Homo sapiens: one gene and its partner. The protein of the gene in region 2 interacts with the protein of the main gene of each other region in a pairwise test. Each region holds a gene or a part of one and is shown on either strand. Other genes may lie near its edges.

Region 1 (3,651 bases), on a different chromosome or scaffold from region 2:
AGAAAAGAAAAGAAGCTAGCCACAGAAGACAGCCTAGTTCCAAATGGACTTTACCAGGCTGTGATGAAAACTTCGGACCCCCCAGCTCTTAGCAACCTGCTCAGCCCAGCAGATGCTGCTTGTGAAAGATGATTCTGCGGGCTTCTTCCCTACTTTGTGTTCGGTGACCTCACGTTGGTAGCTTGAAATGGGCCATGGTGGGAGTATTCACGCCGCAGAAATGGGTAAGGGCCAACAGCAGGGCTTTTTGAGGGGGATCTGGAGAGCAGGTTTGCTGGGACGCCACCGTGGCTGCTCCTCTGGGGAAAAGCCGTGTGAGAATATGCAGAGTCACATGATCTTTGATTTTCTGTGCTTCAATTTCCTTGTGTGTGAGTCTGAATAATGACTTTTTCTGAGTCCCTCTCTTGGTTAATGTGGAGAACAAATGGTTGTGGACTCTAGCGCCATGGAAACCTTATCACTTCCCTGCCTAGTGCTGGAAGACTTGCTTCAGGACCCAAGCCCCTGAGCACAGAGAGGCAGGCGTTGTGGCTGAAAGTACTCGGGACCAGGACCTTAAAACTGGCATTTACACACCACCAGCCACTCTTTGGTGCCCTTGGACCAGTCAGCTAACGCCTCTGGGTTCCAGCATCCTCGTCTGCCTGAGGGGTTCGGGCTGAAGGGTCCTCTGGTCCCCTTCCGGATGTGACATTTGGCATGAATGGTCCTCCCCACCACACACATCTCCACATTCCTACTTCTCTAAACCCTAAACCCGCTCCTTTCTCTTTCATTGATTTATTTTGTAGAGACAAGGTCTCACTCTTGCCCATGGTGGAGTGCAGTGGCAGGAACAAGGCTCACTGCAGCCTCCACCTCCCGGGCTCCAGCGATCCTCCCACCTCAGTCTCCCTGCCAGTAGCTGGGATTACAGGCACGCACCACCATGCCCAGCTAATTAAAAAAAAATTTCCTACAGAGACGGGGTCTAACTATATTGCCAAGGCTGGTCTTGAACTCCTGGGCTCAAGCGATCCTCCTGCGTCGGCCTCTGGAAGTACTGGGGTTCCAGGCGGAAGCCACCGCACCTGGCCTCATTCCCCTCTTGACCCATGACAAGCTCTTGGCTTTTCCTGTCTCACCAGCCCCGCCTTCTCAGTGAGTGGTGTGGTCACCATCTCTTCTCAGTCCACTCCTTCTGGCTGGGGGCTTTCATTGAGTCCCATAGCTTGTGTTGACAAGTCTCAAATTTAAATTGCCAGACTAAACTGCATCCCTGGCTGTGGACTCATCTGCACAACCTGTGCCCAGGAACAGCTGCACGTGGCCGCGTCGCCGGCATTGAGGCTGATCACGGCCGAAACAAGTCTCGGCCCCCCCGACTCCTGTCCCCAACAGTTTAGCATGTCAGCAAGTGGCTCAGGACCCAAGCATTGGACCCATCTTTCATTTTTGCATTTTCTTCACCCTCCCACATAATCTGTCCACAAACCTCGAATGTCGTGCCTCTTAAAGGTATTTGGAATCTGTGCACATTGCAGCTTCTCCACCCCGCCACTGGAATGTCCGGCTGGGTCCTGCAGCCACCTCCAAACTGGCCACTTCCTGCTCCCGTTTCTGTCCCCGGCCCAGCAGTGGGAGCCACTCATTTAATCATCAACCTCAGACCCTGTGTAACCTCAGCTTGGGGCTCCCCGCTGTGCATCCCACAACCTCCTGCCTTGGGGCTGTGGTCAGCTCCTGTTAGAGCCTCGCTCTGTGCCAACCTGCAGGCACACTGGCCTTCTGTCTCATCCCAAACACGCCGAACCTGTCCCACCGCGGGCCTGTCCCTGGCTCTTTCCCCTGCCTGGTGTGTCTGGCTTCTTCTGGTGTGTCTGTCATTCTGGTTTTCTCCCTAAATCCACCTTCTCAGAGAGGCCATTCCAGGCCGGGCAAATGACAAGGTCGCGCCTGCCTCGTCCCTGCCTGTGGCCGTCTCTTCTTTGCCATCACAAGCATCTGAGCACTCTGTGCGTGGATTCATTTGCTTTTGTGTTCTCTGCTTTCTTGCACCTTTAAATGACAGGTCCTGGACTGTCTTGTTCGCTGCATATCCTGAGCCCAGACCAGAGCGTGGCATGGAGCTGGCTCCCGTTACATATTTTCGGGATGAATGAATGACTTTCTTCTGCTTGGCCTAGGAGGCTGTGGCTGCACAGACAGACAAGGGAGCACTGTCCTCGGAGGCTCCCGGGGAGTTCCAGGAACACAGCCCCGGAGCTCTCCTCCCAAACGCACCCCATGCGTGTCCTTGGAGGTGGGCTTCCAGAGAGTTCCAGGAACGCAGCCCCGGAGCTCTCCTCCCAAATGCACCCCACGCGTGTCCTTGGAGGTGGGCTTCCAGAGAGTTCCAGGAACGCAGCCCCAGAGCTCTCCTCCTAAATGCACCCCACGCGTGTCCTCAGAGGTGGGCTTCCAGAGAGTTCCAGGAATATAGCCCTGGTGCTCTCCTACCAAACACACCTCATGCGTGTCCTAGGAGGCTCCTGGAGAGTTCCAGGAACACAGCCCCAGAGCTCTCCTCCCAAATGCACCGCAGGTGACGGTTTCCGAGCTATCCCAGTGGAGCACAGAGATGGCAGGAAGGAGGGGAGGCAGCAGCTCTGGCCAGAGGCTGAGGGAGTTCTGGCTTTTGGGGGAGGGTGGGAATTCTGGCCACTGGTCCGGGTGGTCTGCTCTGGAAAGACCTCCTCCAAGCCCAGAGCAGAGAGGCTGGAAGGGTCAGCCTCGGGATCTCAGGGGTGATGGCCTCTCTGGGGCAGCCAGGTCAGTGGGAGTCACCTGCTTGGCGGGGCCTGGCAGCTCTGTTCTGGTTGCCTAGGACTGTAGCTGGGACATCAGGGTGGAGGGTCAGGGAGCGTGGGGCCACCCTCCCGCCTCTGCCTTCTGGGTCTCTGACCTTGAGCCATGGGGCGTTATGCGACCTCAGACAGAAGAATCACGGTCCCCAGCAGTCCCATCACGAGGAGGGGCCTGCTGCTGGGCGGGAGAGCAGATCTTCCCTTGGGCAGGAGAGTAGGCCTTCCATCAGGCGGAAGAGCAGATTCTAAGGAAAGCCAGAGGACCTGTGAGGGAGAGAGGGATGGCTCCTCACCCCAGCCTCTCCACAGTAAACTCGGGGTCCTCTGTTGGTCCCCACGAGCCCCTCCTTCCTCTTTCACCGCCCCCTTGGTCCCATGGCCTTTGTCCACCACGGCCCTTCATAGCCCTGCTCAGTAGAGCCCACCCCTCTCCAGCCAGGCCCCCGCCGGGGTCGCCACCTTGTCAGTTTCCAGGTGGCCTTTGTCCCCAAGATGGGGCAGGTTCCAGTGGGGAGGTGTGTGTGTGGGAGGCTGATACAGGAAGATTCCAGAAAGGAGGCCCTCAGGTTGCTGTGGTGGGGAGTGGGGAGTGGGGATCCAGCAGCCAGGAGGTGGGCTCTGCACAGCAGGCCCGCCTGGGCCACCCTCGCTCCCTCCAGCCCCTTCTTGAGCAAGACTGCCCACTCCTCCCCCTCGCCCTCTCGTGCCGCCCGAGATGCATGAGGTGCTCGTGAGAGGTCACGTGTTGTGGGAATGTGAGAGATTCTGGTGTTCTCCAAAGCCAGGGGAGGTGGCCCCACTTGGGGCTCAAGGGTGTCCTGGT
Region 2 (3,651 bases):
AATGTCAAACAGCTTAGCACAAAGATAATTAATTCAGGATGATTTGAGATTACTTCTCCCGTATTTACAGAGCTAGTGTTCATATTAAATTTTTAGACTAGTACTCTGCAGTAGCAATCTGATGAAGTGTGGAAAATAAACTTCCCTATTAAGTGTTATTTGCTTCTGCTGTTTTATTATCATTTATTGTAATCCAAGGCTATATATTCCTGGCTTTCTCTATTGTACTTTTGGGGAAAAGCACTTAAAATCAGTGTATCAATATCAGCCTGTTTCTGGACAAATGTATTTGCCTTATTACAGTCTTCATAGACGCTAATGCATTATGTTGGCTTTTCATTTCTGCAAGGTGAGTCAAACTTTCTAAAGTCAGTATCAGGCCATCATCAATACTGGTTTGGCCCTAATCACACACACTGCTGGCTTATCTATAATGACTGTGTGTAAACACTCTTTTGTTTTTCTATGGGAACTGAACATACTGGTACAATGGGTCTACAGTAAACAGAGTAAAAAGACTAATAAGGAGAGGACCTCAGAGATCATATAGCCTATCCTCTCTGGGACAAGGGAAGTACATTTGGCTGAAATACAATAATCTTGTTTTTAAAATCTCTCAACAGATAAACAGTCTCGTCTTCTATCTAGTCTGATAATAAAAAATAGAAATAAAGAGACCAAAGTAATCATTTTTTATCTATTCATTCATCTAACCATGTATTTTAAATTTATTGATTTATTTACTTATTTAGCAGATGATATGACCATCTATCTGGAAAATCCAAGGAAAATAACCACAAAACAAGGTTATAATTAATAAGAGCTTGAAAAGTGCTTGGTTACATTACATTTTAGAATAGCTTTCTATATATCAATTATTGGTTATATGTAATACAACCAACATATAGAATATATACAACCAATTAGAAGAAGGCCCACTTACAAAAGCTAAAGAGGAGTATCAAATACCCAGGAATGACCTTAAGTTCCCCATTTTCCAAATACAATAGGGCACGTGAGAGAAGCTTGCAAAGTAAGAGACCACATGAAGTCATGACAGGCACAGAGAAGAGTCAGGAACACCAGACTCCTATAAATGCCACCTCCCCAATGCCAGCTGCATATGCTCACTCAAGCTGCTGTGATGCTCCCTACCCACCAGCAAACAATCCAAGGAACCTCTATATGAGAGATTTGTGTTTTGGTTGTTGAGAGTTTAAAATGGTTACAAGCTAACAGCTTAAAAAATGAAACAGCTATCCCATCCTGGTTCCATACCCCTGTCCCCATGAGTATAGAAAGGCTGTAACTAAAAACCAGCAGACAGGCCCTGGCTGCTGCTCCCCAATGGTTTCTTCACCTTCTCCATGGAGAAATTCATGACAGCCTGTTGCCAGGGGTGTGTGTGTGTGTGTTGTTCTGGTTAGCAGATGTTGAGCAGCCATCTGGGCATGCAGGAGCCTCGGTCAATGACTGAGTAATTTCCCCTCCTCAAACCCTAACCAACCCCAGTTCCCTTTAAGCTGGGGATTCTCTCTAGGCTCAGTTCAAATCAGAAAGTTGTTCTAGGTTCCTGATATTAAGACATTCCTCGAGAAAGAGCCGTGTGGTTTCCACTGTCCACATCTTTTATACATCATAGTTCCATTTGTTCCCAGGGTGACTGCAGGGAATCCAGGCTGGAGTGAGCTTGCCCCCAGCCTCTTTCCTATGACAAACCAGTGGGAGCCATCATTGAAAACATACACTCTCATTCCTTACTCCTATTCAGGTATGGTCTAGGCTGGATTCCGATGCCCTGAGAGGTCCTCAGTTCCAAGCCACCATACCACTAAGGCCCCAAGAACAACACCAGTGTTCGTGGGCAGCCTCAGGTGGCTGGAGTGGGGGATGGGGCTGCTGTCATGAGGAAAAGCTGGCCATGAGCATGAGATTCCCCCACTGCGGCCTGCAGCTGCCTCCCTGTGCTCCCCACAAATGCCAGCTGCACTCTGGTCAGGTGGCTCACTCTTCCATCTCCTTTAGGGCTCTGCTCAACATCTCCTTTCAGTGAGGCATTCCCTGACCACACTACTTGAAATAGCAATTCCCCATAACCCACTCCTGCTCCCCCATCTCTGATTTATTTTCTCCATAGCAGTATCCATACCTGATATATTAAGTACTTAACCTCATCTGATTCATTCCATTACACTGTAAGTTCCTCAAGGATGCAGTTTTTGTCTGTTTTATTTGCTGCTCTATACCTAATATGTAAAAGTGCCTGGCCTATGGAGACACTCAAACTTTTTTGTTGGATGGTGTTTAAAAAAAAAAAAAAAAGCTAGACACTGGTTAAAGGCAGTAAAGACAGATTTTACCCAGTACAACTGCAGTGAGAGAAAGAGACTTCAGTATAGAACTGAGCTCAACTCCAATTCAGGTAGAGGTGACTGGGTGTTTTAAAGGGAGAATAAGGAAGTAGGGAGGAGAAATGAGAATGTGTGGGGGCTCAAGCAGGGTCAAGGACACAGAACATTACAGCAATCAGGCAAGGGGGCTTGCCAATGAGACTAGGCCATCTGTGACTGCTAAATGGCACTTGTCAAAGTTAGGCTCCTACCCATCTACAGAGACTAGAGGACAGAGCCCTATCCTCCCTGATGATTACACTTCAAAGGAATGGCTCACAGACACTGAGGAAGACACTCCAGGTGGTAGGAGATACACATATATCTCAAAGGCACAGAGAAAGAATTACAATTGTAAGTTTTTAATAAACGATCTAACAAAATGAAAGTCAGGGGCCTATTATCATTTGTGTGGGCTAGAACAAAAGATAAATTCTTTGGGGCAGCCTTGAGCTTTTCTAGGTAGGAATGCAAGTGAGGCTGGGTGATCCCAGACACATGGCCTTAGGCTGCTAGATGCCATGTTATATGGTTTGGCTGTGTCCCCACCCAAATGTCATCATGAATTATAATTCCCATAATCCCCATGTGTCATGAGAGGGACTAGGTGGGAGGTAATTTAATCATGGGGGAACTACCCTCATGTTGTTCTCGCGACAGTAAGTTCTCATGAAATCTGCTGGTTTTATACGGTGTTTTTCCCCCTTTTGCTCATTTTTCTCTCCTGCTGCCATGTGAAGAAGGACGTGTTTGCTTCCCCTTCCACCGTGATTCTATGTTTCCTGAGGCCTCCCCAGCCATGCTGAACTATATGAGTCAATTAAACCTCTTTCCTTTATATATTACCCAGTCTTGGGTATGTCTTTATCAGCAAGGTGAGAACAGGCTAATACACCATGCTACAGTGTTTTCAAATCCGTTGGAGGGTGGGAGCACAGACAAAATTGTTTGTGTTGAAAGCTGCAGTTCTTACGGGCCAAGGTTGAGGCCCAGTTGAGAAGAGGGCTCAGGGGAGCCTGACTAAAGTTTGGTCAAAAAGAGAGTCTCTGTGGATGGGTGGGTGGATGGTAGATAGATGACTGATGGATGGGTAATTGATAGACAAGGTATACCCGTTGGTGGGAAGGGTCAAGATGATAAGATCTAAAGGCATCCAAATTCACATAGGAAGTAGAAATCATTTCAGAGAAAAGGGGAAACTCCTTGACTCTTTTCAACAACTCGTTTCAAACATGTGTGTGGTAGATATTATAAGCCTCCC

What was found. Proteins that work in one complex are often made in the same cells at the same time.
Region 1: the proteins of MTUS2 (region 2) and ENPP7 interact in binary tests that used the Homo sapiens proteins (3 or more experiments, as listed by UniProt).

Annotation. Positions count from the first base shown.
Region 1 is NC_000017.11:79,737,338-79,740,988, reverse strand, and holds part of ENPP7 (ectonucleotide pyrophosphatase/phosphodiesterase family member 7 precursor), read right to left. Parts: intron 3,093-3,651; coding exon of another isoform or gene 3,074-3,092; coding exon 2,943-3,073; 3' UTR 2,927-2,942; intron 1-2,926. UniProt on the Homo sapiens protein: Choline-specific phosphodiesterase that hydrolyzes sphingomyelin releasing the ceramide and phosphocholine and therefore is involved in sphingomyelin digestion, ceramide formation, and fatty acid (FA) absorption in the gastrointestinal tract.
Region 2 is NC_000013.11:28,823,339-28,826,989, reverse strand, and holds part of MTUS2 (microtubule-associated tumor suppressor candidate 2), read right to left. Parts: intron 1-3,651. UniProt on the Homo sapiens protein: Binds microtubules. Together with MAPRE1 may target the microtubule depolymerase KIF2C to the plus-end of microtubules. May regulate the dynamics of microtubules at their growing distal tip.